Linked DNA regions of Homo sapiens. The protein of the gene in region 2 interacts with the protein of the main gene of each other region in a pairwise test. Each region holds a gene or a part of one and is shown on either strand. Other genes may lie near its edges.

Region 1 (3,945 bases), on a different chromosome or scaffold from region 2:
GATCACACGATTGCGCTCTAGCCTCGGCAACAAGAGTGAAACTGTCTCAAAAAAAAAAAGGGCCAGGCGCGGTGGCTCACGCCTGTAATTCCAGCACTTTGTGAGGTCGAGGCAGGAGGATCACAAGGTCAAGAGTTTGAGATCCACTTGACCAACATGGTGAAACCCCGTCTCTACTAAAAAGAATACAAAAATTAGCCGGGTGTGGTAGCACACGCCTGTAATCCCAGCTACTCAGGAGGCTGAGGCAGGAGAATCACTTGAACTGGGGAGGCGGAGGTTGCAGTGAGCTGAGATCATGCCACTGCACTCCAGCCAGGGTGACAGAGCAAGACTCTGTCTCAAAAAAAAAAAAAGATGTGATGAGCCTGGCAGAAGCGAGGAGGCCCTTCCAGAAGAACAGGTACATGGCTGAGAGGGCACCTGAGCCCCCCTTCCTGGCTTTCCTTGCCAGTCAGTGGGAACTTTTTTTTTCGTAGAGATGGTTTTGCTGTGTTGCCCAGGCTGGAGTGCAGCAGCAGGATCATCAGGGCTCATTGCAGCTTCCTATTTGCATAAACAGTCCTCCCCGCTGAGCCTCCTAAGTAACTGGGAACAGTCTATGCCACCATACCAGGTTGTTAATTTTATTTTTGTAGAGATGGGATGTCATCTCTACAGCAATGTTGCCCAGGCTGGTCTCCATCTCTCGCCTTCAAGGGATCCTCCCTCCTCAGTCTCAAACTGGGATGACAGGTGTGAACCATTGAGCCCGGCCTCACCTTGACCTTCTGATCCAACAGAGTCTGAGGGAGCAGAGCCAGGGGCAGGTGTGACTTGATGAGCCGTGGGGGCGGTGTGTCTTTCAGAGTCTCCAGCCCTGAGTAGTGGGTCAGGGAAGGTCTGGTGAGCTGAAGCCCCAGCCCTGTCTTCCTCCACTTCCCTTACCCCCAGGACCCAGCCATGCACCTGAGGGTTCCCCTGGATCATTGACCTCAAGGAAGGGCACCCGTACGTAGATGGGAGCCCGGTTACACTTCTCTAGGTCGCCGCCCTGGTAGATCATGTCCAGTATCTGGCTCACCCAGGTGGTGCCTGGAGAGGGAGGGAGATAGGAGGTGAGCAGGCTGAGGGCACGACCTTGCTGACCAAGGTGGGGACTGCCGCCTGGGAGAGGGTGGGTGGCCCTCCTCACTTACCAGACTTGGGGTAGGTGTTGATGAGCAGGTCATCAGGTCGGGCTTGGAAGCTCTGCAGGGGCCCCAGTGCCTCTGCAAAGTACTTGATGAGCGGGACCCCCTTCACGTACTCCAGTGGCGGGCGGGAGGTGTCCTGGATCAGCTCCATGTTCCTGCATCAGGGGCCAGAGCCAGGCCCGTTCCCTTACCACCATCACAACAGCAAGAAAGTGGGATTCTCTCTTTTTTTTTTTTTTTTTTGAGATGGAGTCTCACTCTCACCCAAGCTGGAGTGCAGTGTGGCACAATCTCAGCTCACTGCAAACTCCACCTCTTGGGTTCAAGCAATCCTCCCGCCTCGGCATCCCAAGTAGCTGGGATTACAAGCATGTACAACCATGCTCAGCTAATTTTTTTTTTTCTTTAGTAGAGATGGGGTTTCACCATGTTGGCCAGGCTGGTCTAGAACTCCTGGCCTCAAGTGATTTGTCTACCTCAGCCTCCCAAAGTGCTGGGATTACAGGTGTGAGCCAGCACCCAGCTGCCCCTTTGCAGAGTTTTTGCTTTCAGGGAAGTCACTGAGGCCTAGGGAGGCTGAGTGACTTGCCCGCACTCACAAAGTCAGTCAGTGGCGGGGCTGGGGCTGAAACCAGGTCGTTCCCCAGCCTGGCCGCACCTTTCAGTCACCTGCAGAGCTGTTCAAAATCCCAGGGCCTGGGGCATAGTGCAGACCAGTGAAAGCACCCTCGTAGCGCGGGGCCCAGATATCAGGGTGTGTGAAGGTCTCCAGGAGAGTCCAGCTGTGCTGAGGAAGCTCTAGGGCCTGCCTGTGCTGTCTCCCTGCCAGCCAGCGCCCTTTGTCTCACCATTTCCTGCTGGGACCCCCAGCCTCCACCCAGTGCGCTCCTCTCCCCGATGCTCCCCTCCTTGAGCCCCCCTCATGCCCCTCACATGTGGAAACCTCCCAGGCCGGCCAGGTCTGTGATCCACTTGCCTGGCCACAGTCCATCTGGGCTCCAGAACAAACACAGCCCATTGAGCAACTAAGCTGGTACCAGGGGCTAGAGCCTCGTGCGGGAATGAAAACTGATGACTCATCAAAAGGAGGGGCCCAGGCAGGGTGACTCCCGCCTGTAATCCCAGAGCCTTGGGAGGCCAACGGGAAAGGATCCCTTGAGCCCTGGAGTTTGAGACCAACCTGGACAACAAAGCAAGACCTCTCCTCTACAAAAAATATTTTTCAAAATTAGCTGGGTGTGGTGGCTTGCTCTTGTAACCCCAGCTACTCAGGAGGCTGAGGCGGCAGGATTGCCTCAGCCTAGGAATTTGAGGCTGCAGTGGGCCAGGATCCCACTACACTCCAGCCTGGGTGACGGAGCAACACCCTGTCTCAAAAATACACAAAGGAAAAGAAGGAACGCAGGGGGATTCCGGCCAGGCTGGGTTGTCTAATTGAAATGGAATATCCATGGGAAAGGGCAGGGATGGCAGAGGCCTCGGCTTCTAGAATGTTGGAGCCACAAGCTGAGCAGGGTGAAGGTGCCCTGGGCCATTCCAACGTGTCACTCACCTGAGCTCTCGGGAACCTGACCTGTTCTCTCCTTGCCTGCAGGGGCTGAGTATGGGTGTGGTGTAGGGAGTGTAGGGCTGCTCTCTGCCCTGAGGGTTTTGAAGGTCCAGTGTGGGAGGGATCTAAAGTCAGGGCTGGGAACTCCAGGAAGGAAGGGGTGGGGTTGAGGGTGGGGAAGCTTCTCTATTACCCTCCTTACCACCACAGCTCCAGCCAAGCTTGGAGTGATCTGCAAACCCAATATGTGAGTTTAGTGTATAGAAAACACATGAATGAAAGGCAAAAGGGGCCAACATTGGTATTTGGGTTTTTTTTTTTTTGAGCTGTCACTAGGCTCCTGACCTTCCCTCTGAACTCCACCCTGCAGGGCAGGCCAACAGACAAGCTTTCTTTCTTTCTTTTTCTTTTTTTTATATGAGATGGAGACTCGCTCTCTCGCCCAGGCTGCAATGCAGTAGCACGATCTCCGCTCACTGTAACCTCCCCCTCCTGGGTTCAAGCGATTCTTCTGCCTCAGCCTCCCGAGTAGCTGGGATTACAGGTGCACACCACCACATCCGGTTAATTTTTGTATTTTTAGTAGAGACGGGGTTTTGCCATGTTGGCCAGGCTGGTCTCAAACTCCTGAGCTCAGATGATCCGCCCGCCTCGGCCTCCCAAAGTGCTGAGATTACAGGCATGAGCCACCATGCCTGGCCGACAAGCTTTCTCTAATTGACCCAGGCAAGGGAGGTGAGTGAGTGGAGGGGAAAGGTGGGATAGGCCGGCCTGGGAAAAGTCACCTACCTGCTGGCTACAGGCCAGTCTTGAAGGCGGCAGGGGTTCTGGCCCAGTGCAGTCCACAGGCCCCCAGCAGCCCAGGCATTCCAGGCTCTGACCACAAGGCCAGTCTGGAGTGATGTGTGGGGGCAGAGTGAAGGGGCAGAAGTGGAGCAGAGCATGGACATATAGAACAAGAAAGAGGCTGAGCGTGGTGGCTCACGCCTGTAATCCCAGTACTTTGGGAGGTCGATGCAGCAGGATCACCTGAGGTCAGGAGTTCGAGACCAAGCTGGCCAACATGGTGAAACCCTGTCTCTACTAAAAATACAAAAATTAGCTGGGCATGATGGCGGGCATCTGTAATCCTAGCTACTCAGGAGGCTGAGGCAAGAGAATCACTTGAACCCAGGAGGCGGAGGTTTCAGTGAGCCAAGATCACACCACTGCACTCCAGCC
Region 2 (2,589 bases):
TGGAGATGGCAGCTTGTCTCCAGCTGGGGAGGGGTCAGGCCCCTAAATTGAAGACCACTTTGGTAGCAGAACTGTAGGGACTGGTGAGTCAACTCACAGATTCTGCAGCAGCTGCTCCACCCACAATAAAGCAAACGCCGACAGGCTAGACCCCAGATTGCAGGGGCTGCCACCTACAAGGTGGGACCACAGGCTGCCTCACCGGGATTGTCTGCCACTAAATAGCTGGAGTCACAGATTGAGATAAATGCCACCTTCAAGGTTGCAGTGAAAAGCATAATCCTATGTGATGAATTTATATGTGTTATTTTTTAAAAAGCTATTTTATTACTGCATGTTCCCGTCCCGTCTTGTGAATGTGAGTCCCCGCCACCACGTGAGGTGCAGTCGTTGCAGCGGCTGGTGCAGGAGTGCAGCTGGCGCGTGTGTGATAGCATCTCGTAGGTGTTGCTGCACAAGAGTTAACCAGAGTCAATGCCAAACACATAGTATGAGAAGTGTACTTTTTAAGAAATTAATTTATTTGAGTTCAAATATTTTTGAAATATAAAAATTGGTTGTATTTTTTAAAGCTATAATTCTTGTAGACATTCTGTGGTTAAAAATTTGATTGTGCTTATTAAAAATGGTCATCTATGTTTTGCACTTCAGCTACGTGAAAATAAAATTTCTTTGGGAAGGTGACATTTGGCTTCCTGATTACGGGAGGGAGTTGGTTATCTCAGGTGGAGCAGGAAAGCCTGGTTGATTCTCACACCAGGATGGGACTGGGACTTCCCAGGATGGAGGGAGGAGGCCATTTCTACACCATACTTTGAGCTACTGACAGCAAAACCCTCCCACCATACTGGGTGCATCTTGTTTACTCTTGACTAACATACACTTCTGATTTACAGCAGAAGCCTCAGAAGCTAATTCAGTTCTCCTTTGGCATGCCACTGGATAACAAGATAGTGAGGGGGCAGTGTGTACAAGCTGTGGACATGGGCATTTCCTCTCTGTTGCAGCAAGGCGGAGGAAAGCCCAGGGAGAGTAAAACGCTACAATCTTTCTAACAGCTTTGCCCTACACCACCATCTAAATGATTATGACCAAGTGGCGACATAGTATTTTATTTTCCTAGAATTATGTCCAGCTGTGAGAAAGCCAGGTTCAAATTTAAATCCTTTAATAACCTGTCCCAGAATTACTAACAATGAGACTTAAACAAATTTTGATTTGTGAAGAAAACATGAAAAAAGTCCAAAAGAAACCCCCTCAAAGGGCCCGAGTGTCAACAGTTCCCCTTTGGAGCAGCTCATCCATCTCTCAGGTGGGGGTCCTCCGGCAGGCAGCTTCCTCTGTGGCGCCAGGTGGGTCCAGAGTGGGCCCGCTCCTTTAGAAGTCAGGCAGGCCAGGCAGAGGGAAGAGAGAGGCGAAGCTCTCAACCTCCTCCCGGAGAGCCTGCACGGCCGCCTGGTACTTATCCCCTGCCAGTCTCTCCTTGAACTCTTTCAGGGTGGCTCTGACACCAGTGTCGCTCTGGATCTGCAGGGTCAGCTCTATCCCTGTGCCACAAGACACAAATGAGTCACCCCACACTACACACCAAAGGGGGTACAATGGCTGGGGGCCGAGGCACAAATGTCAGAATGTCCCCCAGCTGGGGAGTGTGGCAGGGCACAAGGTCTCCATGCTTACCTCAATTACTCTGAGATGCACCCACCCTTGGACAGATGTCCTGGGCAGCCCAAATTTATAACCCTCTCAGACAAGGTGATTTACATGTGTTTTTTGCTGTCTCCCACCCCAACACTCAGCCTTGGTGCAGAATTGTCTTTCAGTGGCAGGGTCTCAGCTACTCATCACAATCAGAAACTAAATACACACAATAAGATGTGGCAACTTCCAAACTTTTATCCTTACCTCTGTGAATAAAGTGGGCTACTTTTTGGAAGTCTTTTTCCAAAAGTCCACGGGACGTCAGTGCTGGGGTCCCCAGCCGCAGTCCACTGGGCCGCAGAGCGCTTCTGTCACCTACAAGATAAACGGGGCTCTGTCCCTAAGTCACATTGTCACCACTGTGATGGTGGTGCATTTAAAAAGGGACATGTGGGCAAAAGAGAACTGGCCTGAGGATACTGGCTGTCCCTAGCAAGGAGTACAACTGATTCAGAAACTAAAGTAGAACCCAAGGCACAAGGAGGCACAACCACGTTTGGCCACTCTGACTTAATTACTAGTACACAAAGTGGTCTGATGTGCCCCTTGCTCCTAAAAATGAGGGTAACATCTGTCTGGGTCTGAGATGCGTCATCAATATTTTGTTAACAACCCACAGAGAAATGCAGCCTCTGGATTCCGGAGGCCCTGACCTCCCTCATCTGATGAATGTACCACCTCCAACAGCTCTACATCAGTCTTTTTGCTCCCTGGCAGGGTCAGGGCCAAGTACAAAGGCACAGCCAAGAGACAGCCAAGGTATGGTCCCTGCCCCCGCTCCATTTTTTGTTTTTGTTTTTGTTTTTTTGAGACGGAGTCTCACTGTCGCCTAAGCTGGAGTGCAGTGGCGCAGTCTCGGCTCAATGCAGCCTCTGCCTCCTGGGTTCA

What was found. Proteins that work in one complex are often made in the same cells at the same time.
Region 1: the proteins of SHMT1 (region 2) and SULT1A3 interact in a two-hybrid assay, tested with the Homo sapiens proteins (one large-scale study listed by BioGRID).

Annotation. Positions count from the first base shown.
Region 1 is NC_000016.10:30,198,110-30,202,054, reverse strand, and holds the start of SULT1A3 (sulfotransferase 1A3), read right to left. Parts: upstream 2,801-3,945; 5' UTR 2,728-2,800; intron 1,331-2,727; 5' UTR 1,327-1,330; coding exon 1,179-1,326; intron 1,075-1,178; coding exon 949-1,074; intron 860-948; coding exon 762-859; intron 1-761. UniProt on the Homo sapiens protein: Sulfotransferase that utilizes 3'-phospho-5'-adenylyl sulfate (PAPS) as sulfonate donor to catalyze the sulfate conjugation of phenolic monoamines (neurotransmitters such as dopamine, (R)-adrenaline/epinephrine, (R)-noradrenaline/norepinephrine and serotonin) and phenolic and catechol drugs.
Region 2 is NC_000017.11:18,327,373-18,329,961, forward strand, and holds the end of SHMT1 (serine hydroxymethyltransferase, cytosolic), read right to left. Parts: intron 2,017-2,589; coding exon 1,906-2,016; intron 1,548-1,905; coding exon 1,378-1,547; 3' UTR 501-1,377; downstream 1-500. UniProt on the Homo sapiens protein: Interconversion of serine and glycine.